Homo sapiens: one gene and its partners. The protein of the gene in region 3 purifies or fractionates together with the protein of the main gene of each other region. This does not show direct contact. Each region holds a gene or a part of one and is shown on either strand. Other genes may lie near its edges.

Region 1 (7,907 bases), on a different chromosome or scaffold from region 3:
CCCCTCGGCAGTGTGGTCTCCCACGGACGAAGGCTCCACGTGCCGCACGGGTCTGGGCTGATCAAATCACCTCTGTCATCACCTGCTTTAGCAACAGGGTGGGAAAGGCCGGGCAGTGCCTGGATGAAGGCACAGGAGGCCCCCTACCTTCTGTGAGCGCCCCCCGTCCCCCGCACAGCGTGCCTCAGTTTCGCCACACTCAACGGCCATGGACCTGAGCCCATGAAGCTCAAACCACGGCCCCAGCACCCTCAGGTGACCGAACTGCATGCTGGGAATAAAACCAACTCATGCACCTTGACCAGTACCGGCCCACAGAACCTTCCAGATGATGCGCACACCTCCCACCGATGCTGGTCCACACCAGCCACCAGCCATGTGTGGCTCCTGGGCACTTGAAATATGTCTAAAGGGAAAACACAACTCAATTTTTCTCTTTTTTTCTTTTTCAGAGACAGGGTCTCACTCTGTCACTCAGGCTGGAGACTCCAACTCCTGGGCGCAAGCAACCCTCCTGCCTCAGCCTCCTGAGTAGCTAAGACCACAGGTGCATGCCACCACACCCAGCTAGTTTGTGTATTTTTGGTAGATATAGGTTTTGCTATGCTGCCAAGGCTGGTCTTGAACTCCTGGCCTCAAGTCATCCTCCTGCCTCAGCCTCCCAAAGTCCTGGGATTACAGGCATGAGCCACTGCACCTGGCCCCAGAATTTTCTAATATTACTTTTTAAAAATGTTCCCTTAGAAATTCACAGTTTCTATCATTCCACATGGCTCATTTTCTTTTTTCTTTTTTTTTTTTGTTTGAGATAGAGTCTTGCTCTGTCACCCAGGCTGGAGTACAGTGGCACGATCTCAGCTCACTGCAACCTCCGCCTCCTGGGTTCAAGCAATTCTCCTGCCTCAGCCTCCCAAGTAGCAGGGATTACAGGCATGCGCCACCATGCCCAGCTAATGTTTTTGTATTCTCAGTAGAGACGGGGTTTCACCATGTTGGCCAGGGTGGCCTTGAACTCCTGACCTCAAATGATCCGCCCACCTCAGCCACCCAAAGTGCTGGGATTACAGGTGTGAGCCACCGCACCTGGCCGATTCATCTTCATTTGTTTCCCGCCAGCCCCAGAACAGCCTGGGGCAGACATTCTTGTTTCTTTTGTTCACTTGTCCATTAGCAGTGCTCTAAGCGCAGAGCCCAGCACACAGGAAGTGCTCAAGAAAAGGATTGTTGAATGAATGAATGAGCCTCATCCAGAACACAAAATTCACCCAACTGCACTGCTGAATCCTTTGGTCTCTGACTAGCTTCCACCTCGTAAATCAGGAGTGGACAAGCTTTCCTGCCAAAGGCTGGAGTCTCTGCTCCCACTACTCAACTCTGCCCTTCTGGTGTGAGAGCAGCCACTAACCGTATGTGAATCATTTGGCTGTGTGCCGTAAACCTTTACTTACCAACACTGAAATCTGAATTTCATACCTCTTTCAGGTGTCAGAAATGTTCTTTTTCACCCACCCCCATTTAAAAATGTGAAGTCCATTCATAGCTCCCAGACCTTAAAAAAACAGCCAGGGGCAGGGTTTGGGGGGCCCTAGCTTACCACCTCTGTTTTACTTTATTTATTTCTATTTATTAATTATTATTATAATTATTGAAACAGAGTCTCACTGTGGTCCAGGCTGGAGTGCAGTTGCGTGATCTCAGCTCACTGCAACCTCCGACTCCCAGGTTCAAGTGATTCTCCTGCCTCAGTCTCCTGAGTGGCTGGGATTACAGGCCCATGCCACCACACCCGGCTAATTTTTGTATTTTTAGTAGAGACAAGGTTCCACCATGTTGGCCAGGCTGGTGTCCAACCTCTGACCTCAAGTGATCCACCCACCTCGGCCTCCCAAAGTGCTGGGATTATAGGCGTGAGCCACCGCACCGGCCACTTATTTATTTTTGAGACACAGTCTGGCTGTGTTGCCTAGGCTGTATCCTCCCACTTTAGCCTCCAAGAAGCTGGGGCTACAAGTGTCCACCACCACACCCAGTAATTTTTTTTTTTTTTTGAGACAGTCTCGCACTGTCACCTGGGCTGGAGTGCAGTGGTGCGATCTCGGCTCACTGCAAACTCTGCATCCCGGGTTCAAGCGATTCTCCTGCCTCAGCCTCCCGAGTAGCTGAGATTACAGGCGCCTGCCACTATGCCCAGCTAACTCTGTTTTGTTTTTGTTTTTGTTTTTGTTTTGTTTTTTCATTTTTAGCAGAGACGGGGTTTCACCATGTTGGCCAGGCTGGTCTCGAACTCCTGGGCTCAAGCGATCCTCCCGCCTCATCCTCCGAAAGTGCTGGGCTTACAGGCCTGAACCACAGCGCCCGGCCTCCACCCCTGTCAGAAGAACCCTCTGAAAATCGGTCCCACTCTACGGAGGAGTAGAGGGAGACTCGGAGAGGATACGGACCGTGCCCATGTTGCGGGGGTTCCCAGGGCGTGGGGTCAGGAGTTAGGGGTGTGCTTCTCTCCCGTCCCCTTGCTGCCGGGGTCTCAGGTCCGCTTTTCCCCGGGACCGGGCTCCCCCTACCTTCCGGGGCCAGGATGGTGAACACTGGATCCTCTGCCGGCGCACCCCGCACATCCTCCAGGATCTGCTCCACCGTGGGGGGCGCTGGGCGGGTGGGCAGCAGCACGCGCTTCTTTGCCTTGGAGCCCATCTCTGAAGGCGGGGAAGGGGGCGCTGACCGGGGCGTCCACCTCTCCGCCCTTGCCCGGGCTGCTCCTCCCGCCCAGCGAACTCGTACGCACCCGTCGCGGTCCCGCTCCCGGGGAAGCCCGCCCTGTCCCGCCCCTCTGAGCTCGCCCCAGGCCCTGACCCTCCCTCCGCCCAAAAACACGGTGGCCAAGGCTTCAGGGTCTGGCTCAACCTCTGCCTCAGTTTCCCCGCGGTCACCCCAGTCGCCGGCCTCTTCCCACCTGGGCGCGGGACCCGAAAGCCCAGCGTCGACGACGCAGCCACTTCCGATTCCGGTCGGAGCACCGCCCCGTCCCCGAACACGTGACACACACTTCCGGCCTCCTCTCCCGCCGGCCCGCCGCTCATCGCGGGGCTCCGCCCCGTCTTAAAGGGATAGTGCCCTTGAGACTCGGATCTCAGCCTCTCAGGCGAACCCGAACCTGGACGCGCTACGATGAGAGCGAGTTCGAGTCCAGGCTCCACTGGCTGGGTAGAAAAGCATCCGAGGCTCGTCTTTCTGAAAAGGGGAACACGGCACTAGGGGACACGCCACCCATGTGGCTGACGGGAGCACAAAATTGCTGTCCACCTAAGGGAGCCTGGTGGTGCATGAGCACTCGGCGGCCGGAACACAGCGGGGGCGGGGCGGTCGCGGCGCCTCCACTTCCGGCCAAGGCGGGTCCTCCCACCTCGGGGACGGTGCTGGAGGTCACCTTTTCCTCTCCGCTGATGCCTGGGAAGGCAGAAAGAGCAGAGGGCCCTTTTCCTCTCTCAGGGGCTTTATTGAGATGCAGTTTACATACCATAAAGTTCTCCTGTTTATTTCGTTTTGTTTTGTTTTTTTAGAGACAGAGTCTCACTGTGTCGCCCAGGCCGGAGTGCAGTGGCGTGATCTCAGCTCACTGCAACCTCCGCCTCCCGAGTTCAAGCAATTCTCCTGCCTCAGCCTCCCGAGTAGCTGGGACTACAGGCGCCCGCCACCACGTCCGTCAAAATTTTTTTTTGTATTTTAGTAGAGATGGGGCTTCACTGTGTTGCCCAGGCTGGTGTCAAACTCCTGAGCTCAGGCAATCCGCCCGCCTCAGCCTCCCAAAGTGCTGGGATTACGGGCGTGAGCCACCGCGCCCGGCCAAATTCGCCTGTTTAAACTGTAAATTCAGCCTGGGCGCGGTGGCTCATGCCTGTAATCCCAGCACTTTGGGAGGCCGAGGCGGGCAGATCACTTGAGGCCAGTTTGAGACCAGCCTGGCCAACATGGTGAGACCCCGTCTCTACTAAAAATACAAAAATTAGGCTGGGTGTGTTGGCTCACGCCTGTAATCCCAGCGCTTTGGGAGGCCGAGGTGGGTGGATCACGAGGTCAGGAGATCAAGACCATCCTGGCTAACATGGTGAAACCCTGTCTCTACTAAAAATACAAAAAGAAAAACAAAATTAACCAGGCATGGTGGCGGTTGCCTGTAGTCCCAGCTACTCAGGAGGCTGGGGCAGGAGAATGGCATGAACCCGAGAGGCAGAGCTTGCAGTGAGCCGAGATCGTGCCACTGCACTCCAGCCTGGGCGACAGAGCAAGACTCTGTCTCAAAAAAAAAAATATTGTTGAGAGAGAAGGAAGGAAGGAAGGGACAGAGAGAGGGAAAAGGAAAGAAAGAGAAAGAAAGGAAAGAAGGAAGGAGAAGAAAAAGGAAGGAAGGAGAGAGAGAAAGAAAAAAAAGAAAAAGGAAATAAAGAGAAGAAAGTAAAGAAGAAAAGGGAGAAAAGAAAGGAAAGGAAGGAAAGAGAAGGAAGAACGGAAGAAAGGAAGGCGAGAGAGAAAGAAAAAGAAAAGAAAGAGGAAGAAAGAAAAAGGAAAGAGAAAGAAGGAAAGAAAGAAAGAAAAGGAAAGGAAGGAAGGGGCCAGGTGCGGTGGCTCAAGCCTGTAATCCCAGCACTTTGGGAGGCCGAGGTGGGCGAATCACGAGGTCAGGAGATCGAGACCATCCTGGCCAACATGGTGAAACCCATCTCTACTAAAAAAGGAAGGAAAGAGAAGGAAGAAAGGAAGGAAAGAAGGAAGGAAGTAAAGAAAAGGAAGGAAGGGAGGGAGGGAGGAAAGGGCCAGGCACAGTGGCTCACGCCTGTAATCCCAGCACTTTGGGAGGCCAAGGAGGGAAGATTGCTTGAGGCCAGGGTTCAAGGCTGCAGTGAGCTACAATCGCACCACTGTACTCTAGCCTAGTCAACGTAGGGAGACCCTGTCTCAAAACAAACAAGAAAAAAAACAAAGGAATCACCGCAGGAGAGGATTCTGGGCCATGGTGAGCCATGTTCTGGGGCTGGACATTACTGCTGACCCCCGGCCATTCCCTGCTGTTCCCACTGCCTGGGGTCCCTGGGCCTGGGCGGACTCTTTCTCCGTGGCCGGCTGCATTCTCCATGGACTGATGTCCGGGGACCCCAAGCAGAAACCACCTGAGCCCTGGGGCCTCGGGCCCACCCTGCTCCAGAGGAGGCCACAGACTGAGCACCTTCTAAGCAACCTTTATTTGCAAACTCTGAGGTTGGACGCGGTGCCCGAGGCGGACAGTGTCACGTTTCTCTCCCTCCACTTTCCCCTGGCTTTTGGGGTGCTCCAGCCTCTCCCCCCAGCCCACTCCCGCCCAAACCCAAAATGCAGAGGAGACTTCTCTCTCTCTCTCTCCCGCCAGGCTTCGGGGTTCCACGGGGCCCATCCCTGGCAGGCCAGGCGTCGGGTGCTGGTGCTCGCTCCTCTGGGGCCAGCCTGGGGAGGCAGCATGGCAGCAGTGCCTGTCAGGGACCCAGGCGGGGGCAAGGTCGCTTTCTGAGCTGACAACTTCAGGTTCCAGCTGGCAGCCAGACCTGGGGTTTGGTGGGGGTGGCCCTGGCACGGGAGAGCCAGGCGTATAGTGGGAGGTCCATGGACATGCCGCAGAGGACGGGGCCTCCGAGGGTCACGGCCAGGAGGCTCAGCACCATGGCCGAGGCTGGGCAGCGGTGGTGGGGACAGGCGGCAGCTCTAAGCCGGGGGCGGCTGTCGGGGGTGGTGGGTCCCATGCAGGAGCCCTGCTGCTGGTCCAGCGTGGAGGATGGGGGACAGGAGGTGCAGTCCCTCGGGGAGCCGCCGCGGCAGGTGTAGCAGGAGGCATGGCAGCTGGAGCAGACCCTCAGCGCGGGCGCCGCCGTGTGCCCAGGCCCAGCGGTCACCAGCCTTGTGTGGTTGAAGAACCGCGGGGGGCAGTAGGCCAGGCAGAGCTGTCCCAGGATGTAGGCGGGGCCGTCACACGCTGCTCGGGGACACGCACGCAAAGGCCCGTCAGCTTGCCACCCGCAGCCTGTTACTCGCCACCCGCCCGCCTGGGGCCACATGCACGCTGCCCACGGTGGCCGCCACCGCCTCCCAGCAGTGGGCCCTGCCCCGCCGGCACTCACCCTGGCACAGCCCCTCTGTGTCCCGCTGCACACACGCGCTGCTGGTCACCTGGGGGCCTGTAGGCCGCGCTGTCATGTCCTCGGCCGTCCCATAGAGCAGCAGCGTGTAGCGGTACAACGTCCCTGGACAGGGGTCGCGGGTGGGCACAGGAGGAAAAGGAGGCTCTCGGCAGCCTGGTCCTGGTAGTCCCCGGGCTCCCTCCCCTTCAGCTCCCACGCGGGGCCCTGGACTGGTTCACATCTCTCAGGGAATTGCACACCTACTGTGCGCCTGTCACTGGACACCGACATCTCCCGGGTGACTGCACACCTACTGTGCGCCTGTCACTGGGCACCTACATCTCCCGTGTTACCGCACACCTACTGTGTGCCTGTCATTGCACACCATCTCCCGGGTGACTGCACGCCTACTGTGTGCATGTTCTCTTGGAGAAGGCCACTGGGAACCCCTTTTGCAGTGCGGTCACCAAGGCTAGCTCCAGAGCCCCTGGGGGGAGGTTGGAGAGCCAAGCCCCGCCCACCACAGCCCCGCCCCGCCCTCACCCGTGTTGAAATAGTAGCCCTTGTTCTCTAGGCCCAGGGTCCACACGCCCTGTGGGTTCTCATCCCAGAAGTGGGTGGACATGAAGACCCAGTTGTTGTAGCCTTCAGTGCTGACGTCCAAGGGTCTGGGACAGAAGGGTGGGTGGGGGTGGGGGTGTCAAGAGGGATGGCTTTGTGAAGCCGGCAGAGCCCCATGAAGTGTCTGACCGCACGCGCTGGTGGCCGCGTGTCCTCTGGGTGTGGGTGAGGGTGTGACTCGGGGTCCCACCAACTAGGCTGCCGTGTGACTCCTATGGGCCTGGCCCCTCCCCGTGAGGACACTCCGGGTAGATGGCAGCGTTTACCGACAGGGCATGAGGCCGCCCCCTCTCCTCTGCGGGCCGCTCACCGTATGGCCACGAGTGTGGAGCGCGTGCCCATGGGGCTGGTGAGCGAGATCTCCAGGTCTCCGCGCCGGCTGTAGGACAGCGTCAGCTGCGCCTGCACGTGCTCCAGCGAGCGGATGGAGTTGTGGAGGCCGGCGCAGGCCGATACGTTTTCCCTGATGTAGATCAGCGGCAGGATGGGGCTGAGGGGGTCGAGGGGTGAGGACCCTCCTGCGGCCTGCTGGGGGGTGGGTGGGCGGCCAGCAGGCGAGGTCGGGGCTCAGAGGTCACGGGGTCCAGCCCTCGTTTTACAGATGGGTAAACTGAGGCCTCAGGCCTGTCCCCCACACCCCCAGCGGGGATAGCGGAGGGGCGCGCAGGGGTCTCACGTGGGGCGGCTCTGGACCCGGACGGCGCACTTCCTCTGCGGCTGGGTGGGCAGCCAGGTGCGGGCGGTGTCCACCAGCAGCCCGGCGTCCAGCAGCCCGTATCCGTAGTGATGGCTCACTGCGCGGAAGGGCAGCAGTCACTCGCCCCGTGGGCCCCGGGTCCCCGCCCCCGCCCGGCCCCGCCGCACCTTGGCGCCCCACGCCGTTGGTCCTCCAGTCCTCGGCCTGCAGGTGCGCCGGCTTGGACGCGCGGACCACCAGGTGCTGCATGTCTCTCCACGTCAGGAACGGGCTGCGGGGGGCGGGGGCGGGGGCGGGTGAGCCGCCGGGCCGCGCCTGGGGGCGAGGGCGGTGGACCGGGCCCCGCAGTCACCTACTTGGCCTCCAGCGCTAGGGCGATCATGCCGGCCGCCAGTGGGGCTGAGGCCGAGGTGCCCGTGTGCTGGTCTGTGCACCCGTGATGCAGGTCC
Region 2 (5,573 bases), on a different chromosome or scaffold from region 3:
GGGGGGGATGGTTCCTGCCCGTCTGGTCTAACCTGAGACGAGTTTTGGCTACCCCACCACGAGTTATGAGACGAGCAGGCTGGGGCCTCACTGCCCCTGGCTCACCTCTGCATGTCGCTGGGTTTCTCAAGGAGCTCAGACTGCAAGTGAGTAAGCATTTCCACTCTCCTCAGAGAAGAGAGATTGTGCTCCAAAGTGTAATGGCGAATGGGCCACCACCTCCCCTTCGCCCAGATATTCTGACTATGGAGCAGGTGGAGGCTGCAGGGGCCTCACATGCCAGCTCCTGGGTAAAGTATGTATGAGCACAGAGCCCCGGGCTACATAGTGAGGGAAGGCAGCCAACTCGGGACTTATCGGACCCGTGGCCTCTGTGCTCCCAGCATGTATGGGGCTGAGATGATGGCCTGGACCTCGAGGAAACACAGGCAGGAGGAGGCATGAAGGCGCTGAAGGGAACCTCTCCACTCGATTCTCTTTGTATGACACAGAAAGTCCACAAAGCCTCCGAGATGTGTTTACTTATTCTTCTGTGTCCCCAAAACCCCTTTCCAAAATAACATTTAAATGATTGTTCTGTGCTGTGTGTTCAAATGGAGATAATCAGATGCCAGTGGCTTTACAATGTGGGTTGCATTCCATTTTCCCAGGCGCCCAGGTCCTGGGTCTCTAGGCCACCGCCCGCCGTGGCCGCCCCTCTGCTCACCAGGGAGGCCAGACAGGAACCCTGCAGCTGCCAGAGCAAGCACGTCCCACAGCCTTGGGAGGCCTCCCAAAATGTGTCCAGATTCCCACAGGCAGAGAGAGAGGGACTGAAAGGCTGAAGTGAAGTGACCGTGCCTGCCCAGCCTGGGACTGAGAGCCTGAAGACCAGCTTTCCAGACTCTGTCCCAGAACCCCCTTGGCCCTCAGCAAATCCCCTCCTCCTGGCCTGAAACAGACTCCAGGCTTCTTGCAGAGACGTCTTCTGTGGAGAACCAGAAAGATTGAGTCCACCCTGACTGTCCCGGGACAGAGCTGCTGAGCAGGGTGCAGGAGCCACAAACACCGGATCTTTCGAGGCACATCAGTGACAGATCTGGGCACAGCTGGACCAGCCAGGACATTGAGCCACTGCAGCCCCAAGGCTCTAAATGCGGTGCTTCAGCTCTAGCTTGGCCACCGTGGCCCGGTGCACCTCGTCAGGGCCGTCGGCAAAGCGCAGGGCTCGGGCCCAGGTGAAGAACTGAGCCAGTGGGTAGTCGCTGCTCAGGCCTGCTGCTCCAAAGGCCTGGCAGACACAGAGTGGAGGGAGGCGGCCCTGGGTCAGCCCTTGTCTCCGAGAGCCCCAGGAATGATAGCCTGCTCTTGATGGCCCATAACAACCATCTTCCCGGACTTCCCTGTGGCACCTATGTGATACAATCACTAATATTCCAGAGGGCTTCCATGGGGCCACACCTGCCATCCCACGGCCTCCAGACTCCCCAGGCCCACTCTGCAGGTGCCTTCTGCCCTGTGCTGGGGCCGGGGGTTAGGATCTAAGGAGGCGGCCCCCCTGCATGGGAAAGAGCCTGGGCTCTGGGCTTATGAAAACCCAAGTTCATGTGAATTTGAGGTCAGCTACTTGCAAGCTCAGTGACCTGGACAAGTCACTTCACTTTTCTGTGCCTGTTTCCTCACATTCAAAATGGGGGTACGATGGCACCTCCCACCTTGCTGGGTCATTCTGAAGAGGAAAAGGAAAGTTGCATGCATGGTGAGTGGGTGACACAGGGCATCTGCCAGGGTCTATGGGAGGCTGGGCGGCTGAAGATAGGAGAGTTTGGCATCTAGTATTGATGGTTCAAATAAGCCAACTGTCTGGTCTGTGCTCACCTGAATCGCACGATCAATCACTCGGGAGGCCATGGACGGGGCGACCATTTTAATCATGGCTATATCCAAGGCTGCAGCCTGTAAGGAGGAGGAGATGCGATCATAAAAGACCCGAGGGCAGCCTGGGTGGCAGAGTGAGGCCCCCCCGTCCCCCATCTCTACTAAAAATACAAAAACTAGCAGGGTGTGGTAGCATGTGCTTGTAGTCCCAGCTACTCAGGAGGCTGAGGTGAGAGGATTGTTTGAGTCTGGGAAGTTGGGGGCTGTGGTAAGCTGAGATTGCAACACTGCACTCAAGCCTGGACAACAGAGTGAGACCCCCTCTCAAAAACAAACAACAGGCCAGGCGCGGTGGTTCAGGCCTGTGATTCCAGCACTTTGGGAGGCCGAGGCGGGCAGATCACCTGAGGTCAGGAGTTTGAGACCAACCTGGCCAACATATAGTGAAACCCAGTCTCTACTAAAAAATACAAAAATTAGCTGGGCGTGATGGTGCACACCTGTAGTCCCAGCTACTTGGGAAACTGAGGCAAGAGAGCTGCTTGAACCCGGGAGGCGGAGGTTGCAGTGAGCCAAGATTGTGCCACTCTACTCCAGCCTGGGCCACCGAGTGAGACTCTGTCTCTCAAAAACAAAACGAAAAACTAAACCACAAAAAAGACCCGAAGGCAGAAAGCCTGGAAGAATGATCAGATTCCCAGCAAGAAGTCAAACACCACCGTCCAAAACAGAGGCCCCAAGGTCTCGCTGATGTGAGCTGGGTGAGGCTGCCCCTGCCTGGTGTACGGCTTGACAGCACCCAGGGATGAAGGGCGCCATGTTGGCAACTATTATCTTATGTCACAAGATGCGAAGCAAGTGCTGGCAGAATGTGGCTGTCTTCCCAGATGACGGGGAACACAGCCAGCACACACTGAAGGGATAAGGGGAGGGTCCTGTGCTTTGCTCAGGGTCACGGCCAGCTCTGCCTCCAAGCAGCAGTGGACCAAGGCCACTCAGGGCTCTGGGAAACCGAGCTACAGTGATCTGCCCTGGGGCAGGGTGTTCAAGGGAGACACCCAGCAGCCTCCACCATATCTAGCACGCCAGCGTCAAAGAACCAGGAACTGTGAGCATGAGCATGGGTTGGTCCCTGATGGTTGAGGGTCTTGGGTGGGGTTGGAGGCTGCCCCACAGAAAGCTGGACAAAGCAAGGTCAACATGGCATTGTGCTTGGTCATCACAGGCACTTAGAAAGAGCCTTAGTTAGCCTGGGCAACATGGTGAGAGCCGGTCTCTACAAAAAATAAAGAATTAGCTGGGCATGGAGGTTTGCGCCTGGAGTCCCAGCTACTTGGGAGGCTGAGGCTTCAGTGAGCCATGATGTACCACTGCATTCTAGCCTGGCTACAGAGCAAGGCCCTGTCTCAAAAAATAAATAAATAAAAGGTTAAAAAGAGCCTTAGTGAATGACTAATGTCACACTTGAAAATAAGCTTCTATTTTTGTTAATTCAATATTCAGATGAAGGCCAGCAGAGGGTCCCTTTTCCCTGCCTTACTCTTAGGTTGCCCAACACCTCCACCAATGGCCCTGGGAGTCCAGGGCCACCCAGGGGCCCTGTGGCCCCATCAGACCCACTGCCTTGGACTAAGCAGCTCACCAGGTCAGTAAAACACAAAGGCCAGTCCTCTCTTCTTGTGCCTTTCCAATTTTTGAAAAACTGCCCAAACAGCTCCAAGTAGAGGTGAAATAAAGTTTCTAATGTCAAGAAGCCAGGCTCTCATGCTTTGCTGAGTGAGGAGGAAGAATCTCTGCCTCTGGGAGGCCCCCTCGTGCCCCTGCCCCTACCTTGTTTCCTGCCAGGTCCATGAGGTGGGCAGCTCTCAGCACCAGCAGCCGTGCCTGCTCAATCTCCACGCGCGACTGCGCGATGTCCGCCAGCACTGTGCCCTGCTCCACCAGGGGCTTCCCAAAAGCCAAGCGGGACTTCACCTGTCGACACAGGAGATGTGCGGCTGAGGACATGCTGGGCTGGGGGTGGCCACGAGAGGCGGGGGCTGGTGGCCTGCAGAGCTGGGTGGAAGCAGACAGGACAGGGCAGGGGAGGAGAGTGAAACCAGGACTGTGCATCTTCTCAGCCAAGGTGCCTGTGTGCAGCCATGCGCCATGTCCAGGGAGTAGGTCTGACACACAACCTTCACGTGTGCCACAGCCAGCCACAGCCCACAGGGTGCCTGTAACAAATTGCTTCCAAGAACCCTTTATTCCAGCCATTGCACATCTGGGCAGGCCTGGCTACCAGACAGGAGCAGTTATAGATCTGAGCCAGCATCTGACCCAAGGCTACTCCTGGGAATGAGGGAGTGACTGCAGGCACTGCACACGGCGCAGGCGAAGGGTGCCCTCTGCTGACCGCAGCACCCCTTCCTGCCCTGCAGCTCCAATGGGAGCAAGGTCCCCTCAGCCCCGTCTCGCTCCCGGCCTTCCGCCGTGGGTGGCCTTATCTGCAAGGGGGATTTTAAATTCTGAAAGTCACAAGGCATCAGAAAAGGTTCTAAGTATTCCTTTTTTTTTCTTGTTTTATTTATTCTTTTTCCTTCTTTTTTTTATTATTTTTTTGGAGACGGGGTCTCACTTTGTTGCGCAGGCTGGAGTGCAGTGGCGTGATCTTGGCTCACTGCAACCTCCGCCTCCCGGGCTCAAGCAATCTTCCTACCTCAGCCACCTGAGTAGCTGGGACCACAGGCAAGAACCACCACATCTAGCTAACTTTCCAATTTTTTGTAGAGACAGGGTCTCACTACATTGCCCAGACTGGTCTCAAACTCTTAGACTCAGGCAATCCTCCTGCCTTGGTCTCCCCAAGTGTTGGGATTACAGGCATGAACCACCACACCCAGCCTAGTTTTTTTTTTTTTTTTTCACTAAAAACAATCTACACAAATAATTTATCTCATGGCAGAAAAACTACCTGTTTTCAGAACAAAAAAAGAGAAGACAGTAAGAGCACCTAGAATCCCACCATCTAGTCACCACTAGTTAATATTTGGTGGATATTCTCCTCTATCCTTCTATAGTTTTTTTATATATACTTATTTTTTCCAAAAACGGGAGCCACACTCTATATATGGTTTTGTAGCCTTTTTGTTTGTTTGAGACAGAGTTTCGCTTTTGTTGCCCAGGCTGGAGTGCAGTGGCGCGATCTCGGCTCACTGCAACCTCTGCCTCCCGGGGTTCAAGTGATTCTCCTGCTTCAGCCTCCCAAGTAGCTGAGATTACAGGTGCCTGCCACCACACCTGGCTAATTTTTGTATTTTTTTAATAGAGATGGGGTGTTTCATAATTTTGGCCTGACTGGTCTTGAACTCCTGACCTCAGGTGATCTGCCTGCCTTGGCCTCTCAAAGTGCTGGGATTACAGGCATGAACCACAGCACCCGGCCAGCCTGCTTAAAACAATAACAACAACAACAACAACAACAACAAAACATTATTTTGCATCAAAGCTAACAGCCTGTTTTTGTTTGTTTTTTTTTTTCCCAGACAGGGTGTTGCTCTGTTACCCAGGCTGCAGTGCAATGGCACACTCACAGGTCGCTGCAGCCTCGACCTCCCAGGCTCAGGAGATCCTCCCACCTCAGCCTCCTGAGTAGCTAGGACTATAAATGTGTGCCACCACACCTGGCTACTTTTTTTTTTTTTTTTTGAGACAGAGTATCGCTCTTGTTGCCCAGG
Region 3 (7,142 bases):
TTTACATATATTATATATTTATATATATTTACATATATATTTATATACTTACTATTTATATATTATATATTATTTATATATAATTATTTATATAATTATATATGTAATACATATATATATACACACACACAGATAGGTGTATCTGTTGCTTTATCCTAAGTGAACACAGATACTGCATCACTAGGGAGCGACATTGTGAACCGCAGAACACTCCCTGCAGTCCCCTGAGCTCAGTCTGGTCCTTGGGGGTGATCCTGGGGGCACCCATCACGCCCACGCCCTTTCCGTACCTTAACAGGTGTAGGCAGGGTGTTGTGTGTCTCCCAGGGGCCGTGCAGAATCTCCTAACCCGAGAGAGGAAGAGCAGGGTTCCAGGTGGACACTGGGATCCCTGGACCCTGCCCCGCCCACCCCACTGCCTCTAGGGACAGAAGAGGGGCTGGGGGAGGGAGGTTGGGGACCATGCCCAGACACAGCCAATGAGGAGGTCCTGATGGAGAGGCAGGGCTGAAGGAGAGGGCGCAGGAGAGAGACTCAGACGAGAGGGGGCCATCTGCCCGGGGAAAGGGCCTCTCCAAGCGCAGGGCTGTACGTATGCACCACTGGCAACAGCTACCCTGCTGTTGTTAATCCTAAGCCATCGCTTCTTCCCTGGAACTTTAAGGGACAAACTCAGAACTGCAGTGTGGGTAGGGTTGGAGGGAGGGAGCGTCTCTGTGGTTCTCCAAGGGGACCTCACCTCTCCCACCCACCCCAAGGTTGGTCAGTCTGAATGGTGCAGCCAGGCGGGGACCTGGCAGAAGGCATCTGAAAAGCATGTGCTTTTACAAACACAGGGTTGCCCACCGTCCCGTACGTCCCATGCACGCCTCTCTCAGCCTCTGACCTAATTGTCCTCTTGTGGGGTGGGGGAGGCCAATATTTGGGAAAAGGGGCAGCATCCTGGTGCACGTAGGACGCTGGCACCTGTCTGGCAGTGCCTAAATGAAAGTACTGCTTTTCCAATGTGGGATAATTCCTTTTTTTTTTTTTTTTTTTTTGAGACAGAGTCTCACTCTGTCACCCAGGCTGGAGTGCAGTGGCGCGATCTTGGCTCACCGCAACCTCCGCCTCCTGGGTTCAAGTGATTCTGCTGCCTTAGCGTGCCGAGTAACTGGGATGACAGGTGCCCGCCGCCACACTCGGCTAATTTTGGTATTTTTAGTAGAGACGGGGTTTCACTATGTTGGCCAGGCTGGTCTCAAACCCCTGACCTCAAGTGATCCACCCACCTCGGCCTCCCAAAGTGCTGGGATTACAGGCGTCTGTCACCGCCGTAAACACAAAATATGCTACTATCTGGCGCTGCTTGCCAAAGTCAAGTGGGCTATGCAAGGAGGAACGGAACGGGAAGGAGAGATTGAACGGCGCAGTCAGGTGCACCTGCTTCCCCACGGGCTTCAGCTCCTCAGCGGTTTTCACTTAGGGCTCTCGCGCTTCAGACTTCTCATCCACGTTACGTAAAGATAACAACATGGGAAGAAACAACCACACACACACACACACACACAGACACACACACAGACACACACACACACACACACACAAACCCTTTTCTTTTTGGGAACAGAGCCACGTGACCATGGTTCCCCTTTATAGAAATGGGACCTAAAGCGCCACAGCAGGCCTTGTTGTGTGTGGCCTGAAATTCCCAGAGCAGCTCCCTCTGCCTTTTCTCAGCTTTTTAGGGGACAGATCTGACAAGACCCAAGGAATTGGGGTTTCTAAGCGGACCTGTACAAATGAGGTCTGAGGTGGCCGTGAGACCCGGGTCTGGGGTCTCCCTGGCACCGAGGGGGTGACGAGGGGCCACCGTGCTCATCCAGGCACCCATAGGGCTTTAAAACCCGTTTAATTTATGCTTACTCTTCCATTATTGGAACGCTAAGCATTTGGGAGTTATTTATATCCCACGGCTCAAGGTCATCGCCAAGGTCTCATTGCAAACATTGAAAAAACTGCAATCTCAGGCGTAAATGGGTTACGTGCAGCAGCCGCAGCTGCTTACCCTCTCTAAGGTTAACCTCAAGAGAGGCGCATTTCATGGAATGAGTTTTTTTTTGTTTTTTTTTTTCTAAACAGAGTCTCGCTCTGTCGCCCAGGCTGGAGTGCAGTGGCGTGATCTCTGCTCACTGCAAGCTCCACCTCCAGGGATCATGCCATTCTCCTGCCTCAGCCTCCCGAGTAGCTGGGACCGCAGGCGCCCACCACCAAGCCCAGCTAATTTTTGTATTTTTAGTAGAGACGGGGTTTCACCGTGTTAGCCAGGATGGTCTCGAACTCCTGACCTCAGATGATCCACCCACCTCGGTCCCCCAAAGTGCTGGGATTACAGGCACCTGCCACCACGCCTGGCTAATTTTTGTATTTTTAGTAGAGACGGGGTTTCACCGTGTTAGCCAGGATGGTCTCGAACTCCTGACCTCGTGATCCGCCCACCTCGGCCTCTGAAAGTTCATGGAATGAGTTATTAAAGGAAGGGTGGCTTGCAGCCCTGGAAAATTTGAGCATTTCTCCCCTAAGTGACGAAGCGGCTGTGCAAAGTCTTCCTCCCAGGAAATTTGCACTCCTGGTCTGCTCTAGCGTGAGGAGAACACGCCTCATGGAGTTTGCACCGTCTTCCCCCATGTTCTCACCGTACACGGACCCTCCCAGCGACCCTGTCTTCTCCCTTGACAGTGCAGGACAAGCATAAAAGTCCAGCTCGGCGGCTCACCTGTGCAGAAGCAGCGGCAGAAGTAGCAGGTGAGAGCTCAGAGGGTCTCCAGGTAACAGGATGCAACGCTTAAGTCGACGGCCGTGCCTCAGAGCCCGGGACTCGGGGGGCCAGCCACCAGCTTGCAAGCCGTGGTCACTCAAAGTGCTTGAGAAGGTGTTCGTGGGCGGCAGACGGCTGCCCTTCCAGTTCCATCTGTCCAGCAACCTTGCAAAGGCGGCCGCTTCGCTGGGTGGCCCACCGGCTGGCACGACTGTCTCCGAATGCAAATTCTGCAAACTCCACCTCCCAGCGCACCACCACGGTTGCGACTCAGGCTTAGGTGGAAAGGAAGTGTGTTGTGACATTTCCTCTGTAACTGTCTGAACACTCATGTGCAGGGCTGAGCCCACTGGAGTAACGTCGCTGTGTCTCTGGGCAGCACCGTTAACCGCCCACCTCCCTATCACTGGCTCGCAGGGGGCCCTACTCTTAAGAGAACCCTGAGAGTGAGGAAAAGAGGGAGAATGATTTTTCTAAATTTTGTAACCAGCAGTGAAGAGCCGTGGCATGCTCCAGAACCGATTCCTGTTTCTTCTGAAATAACAAAACAAAACAAAGAAAGAACAGAACACGTTTCCTTTTAGACTCTAAAGCTGTGCTCATTGCGACATCTCTTGGTACACAGCCAGACTGTGACAAGCGAACAGACCTTGGGCACTGATCATTCCGGCTCTCACAGTTGGTCACGGGCGCTGCAGGCTCATATCCTCAACATCCCATGGGGGATCGGCCAGTTTCAGGAATGAGAACCAGGTTTCCGAGCTCTGGTATCCTTGCTTGTGAGGAGCAACGGTTGGTTCTTGTCACTCGTGGGAGGAGGTTGAGAGGGAAGGATCTGTCACTGAGAAAGAATGAATGAATATTGAACCACTGCTCAGGGAAAAGACATGGTAGAATCAATCCCTCAAGCCAGGCTGGGTGTGGTGGCTCACGCCTGTAGTCCCAGCACTTTGGGAGGCCAAGGCGGGTGGATCACTTCAGGTCAGGAGTTTGAGACCAGCCTGGCCAACATGGCGAAATCCCGTCCCTACTAAAAACACAAAAATTAGCTGGGTGTGGTGGTGGACACCTGTAGTCCCAGCTACTGGGGAGGCTGAGGCAGGAGAATCACTTGAACCTGGGAGGTGGAGGTTGCAGTGAGCCAAGATCAGGCCATTGCACTCCAGTCTGGGTGACAGTGAGACTGTCCCAAAAAACAAACAAACAAACAAAAAGACCAGGCCTGCTGGCTCACGCCTATAATCCCAGCACTTTGGGAGGCCAAGGCGGGTGGATCACTTGAGGTCAGGAGTTCGAGACCAGCCTGGCCAACATAGCGAAATCCCGTCCCTACTAAAAATACAAAAATTAGCTGGGCATGGTGGTGGATGCCTGTAATCCTAGCTACTGGGGAGGCTGAGGCAGGAGAATCACTTGAACCCGGGAGCTGGAGGTTGCAGTGAGCCAAGATCAGGCCATTGCACTCCAGCCTGGGTAACAGAGTGAGACTGTCTCAAAAAAAAAAAAAAAGTCGAGGCCTGGTGGCTCACACCTGTATTCCCAGCACTTTGAGGTGCCAAGGTGGGCCGGATCACTTGAGGTCAGGAGTTCGAGACCAGCCTGGCCAACATAGCGAAACCTGTCCCTTAAAAATACAAAAATTAGCTAGGCGTGGTGGTGGACGCCTGTAATCCCAGCTACTGGGGAGGCTGAGGCAGGAGAAGCATGTGAACCTAGGAGGTGGAGGTGGCAGTGAGCCCAGATTGGGCCATTGTACCCCAGCCTGGGTGACAGAGTGAGACTGTCTCAAAAAAAAAAAAAAAAAAAGGCCAGGCCTGGTGGCTCACGCCTATAATCCCAGCACTTTGGGAGGCCAAGGCGGGTGGATCACTTGAGATCAGCAGTTCAAGACTAGCCTGGCCAACATGGCGAAACCCTGTCTCTACTAAAAATACAAAAATTAGCTGGGTGTGATGGTGGGGGCCTGTAGTTCCAGCTACTGGGGAGGCTGAGGCAAGAGAATGACTTGAACCAGAGAGGCAGAGGTTGCAGAGAGCCGAGATCATGCCACTGCACTCCAGCCTGGGCAACAGAGAGAGACCCTGTCTCAAAAAAAAAAAAAAAAAAAATCAAAAGAATCCTTCAGGCCCCTGGTCACAGTGTTTTCTTCAACAGATCAATAAGTAGCTTTATATTATGTGTGTTTCTGTTTGAAAACACCTTATTAAGGAAATCGTTCTGTAAAAGGACATCCACACTCACAGTTCATCACAGCACTATTCACCATAGCAAAGACACAGAGTCAACCCAGGTGCTTATCCACCATGCATCGGATAAAGAAAATAGGGTACGTGACCGGCGGGTGCAGAGGCTCACGCCTGTAATCCCAGCAGTCTGGGAGGCCGAGGCAGGTGGATCACCTGAGGTCAGGAGTTCGAGACCAGACTGGTCAACATGGAGAAACCCCCTCTCTACTAAAAATACAAAAAATAATCTTGGCGTGGTGAAAGACACCTGTAATCCCAGCTATTTGGGAGACTGAGTCAGGAGGATCGCTTGAACCCGGGAGGCGGAGGTTGCAGTGAGCCGAGATCATGCCGCTGCACCCCAGCCTGGGCAACAAGAGCGAAACTCTGTCTCAAAAAATAAATAAATAAACAAATAAAAATAAAAAATAATAAAATGGGGTACATAGACACCATGGAATAGTACAAAGCTGTGAAAAAGAATGAAATCATGTCCTTTGCAGCAACTTGGATCCAGCCGGAGGCCATTCTCCAAAGTAAATTAATACAGAGACAGAAAGCCAAATACCGCATGTTCTCACTTATAAGCAGGAGGTAAACACAGGGTACTCATGGACATAAAGATGGGAACAACAGGCCAGGCGTGGTGGCTCATGCCTGTAATCCCAGCACTGTGGGAGGCCGAGGTGGGTGGATCACCTGAGGTGAGGAGTTTGAGACCAGCCTGACCAACATGATGAAACCCTGTCTGTACTAAAAACACAAAAATTAGCTGGGCATGGTCACAGACACCTGTAATCTCAGCTACTCGGGAGGCTGAGGCAGGAGAATCGCTTGAACCCGGGAAGAGGAGGTTGCAGTCGCTACTAAAAGTACAAAAATTACTCGAGCATGGTGGCACATGCCTGTAATCCCAGCTACTCAGGAGGCTGAGGCAGGAGAATCGCTTGAACCCTGGAGGTGGAGGTTGCAGTGAGCCAAGATCGCACCACTGCACTCCAGCCTGGGCAACAGGAGTGAAAATTCTGTCTCAAAAAAAAAAAAAAAGATGGGAAGAAGAGGCGTTACAGACTCCTAGAGTGGGGAGGGAGGGAGATGAAGGGCTGAAAAACTACCTACTGGGTGCTAAACTCAGTAGCTAGGTCATGAGATCATTCATACCCAAAATCTCAGCATCACACAAGATACCCTTGTAACAAACCTGCACATGTACCCCCGGAATCTAAAATAAAGTAAAGGCTGGGCACAGTGGCTCATGCCTATAATCCCAGGACTTTGGGAGGCCGAGGTGGGCGGATCACCTGAGGTCAGGAGTTCAAGACCAGCCTGGCCAACATGGTGAAATACTGTCTGTACTAAAAATACAAAAATTAGCCGGGTATGGTCACAGACACCTGTAATCTCAGCTACTAGAGAGGCTAAGGCAGGAGAATCGCTTGAACCCGGGAAGTGGAGGTTGCAGTCTCTACCAAAAATACAAAAATTAACCAGGCGTGGTGGCATATGCCTGTAGTCTCAGCAACTCGGAACGCTGAGGCAGGAGAATTGCTTGAACCCGGGAGGCAGAGATTGCAGTGAGCCGAGATCATGCCACTGCACTCCAGCCTGGGCGTCAGAGTGAGACTCTGTCTCAAAAAAAAAAAAAAAAAAAAAAAAAAAAAAGGAAAGAAAATCAAAGGCAGAGTCTATTCATCAGTTTGTGAAGTGTTTGTCTTCAGGATTACAGTGGTCCCTCCTTCTTCATGGTAGACGTGGTCCATAAAGTCGGAGCAAACGCTGAGTTAACAAATACAAACCGTCCTGCAAAAAGTCCACACTTAGACGCCTGTAGCTTTTGTACCTCTGGTCCCCAAATTTTTCACAGCTGATCCATACATAACCTTATTTTACGTGTGTTTCTGTTTAAAAAGCCGTATGGAGTCGATATTGTGGACGCAGTCACATTGAACTCACAGCCAACGGCATTATAATTCATGCCTGGGCAAAGCGTCTCTAACACACCTATTTTCTCCAGAAGACGCGCTGCAGTCTTCATGGGCTTACGGATGCTAGGCAGCTTTGCAGCTTCTGGGGCTTTTGAAACAGAAATCGCCAACAAAATGCACAAAAATGTAAAAATA

The links. The genes of interacting proteins can lie anywhere in the genome.
Region 1: the proteins of P2RY8 (region 3) and C19orf25 purify together in Homo sapiens (affinity purification with mass spectrometry; 3 studies listed by BioGRID and IntAct, with this or other methods). This does not show direct contact.
Region 2: the proteins of P2RY8 (region 3) and ACAD10 purify together in Homo sapiens (affinity purification with mass spectrometry; 3 studies listed by BioGRID and IntAct, with this or other methods). This does not show direct contact.

The regions. Positions count from the first base shown.
Region 1 is NC_000019.10:1,476,213-1,484,119, forward strand, and holds the start of C19orf25 (UPF0449 protein C19orf25), read right to left. Parts: upstream 3,004-7,907; 5' UTR 2,951-3,003; exon of another isoform or gene 2,928-2,950; intron 2,694-2,927; 5' UTR 2,692-2,693; coding exon 2,562-2,691; intron 1-2,561. Other genes in the region: PCSK4 (proprotein convertase subtilisin/kexin type 4), read right to left, coding at 5,547-5,995, 6,141-6,263, 6,684-6,808, 7,072-7,251, 7,438-7,555, 7,626-7,729, 7,815-7,907.
Region 2 is NC_000012.12:111,752,030-111,757,602, reverse strand, and holds the end of ACAD10 (acyl-CoA dehydrogenase family member 10), read right to left. Parts: intron 3,832-5,573; coding exon 3,688-3,831; intron 1,936-3,687; coding exon 1,858-1,935; intron 1,271-1,857; coding exon 1,130-1,270; 3' UTR 504-1,129; downstream 1-503.
Region 3 is NC_000023.11:1,534,166-1,541,307, forward strand, and holds the start of P2RY8 (S-geranylgeranyl-glutathione receptor P2RY8), read right to left. Parts: upstream 3,021-7,142; 5' UTR 2,756-3,020; intron 1-2,755. UniProt on the Homo sapiens protein: G protein-coupled receptor for S-geranylgeranyl-glutathione (GGG), an endogenous metabolite present in lymphoid tissues.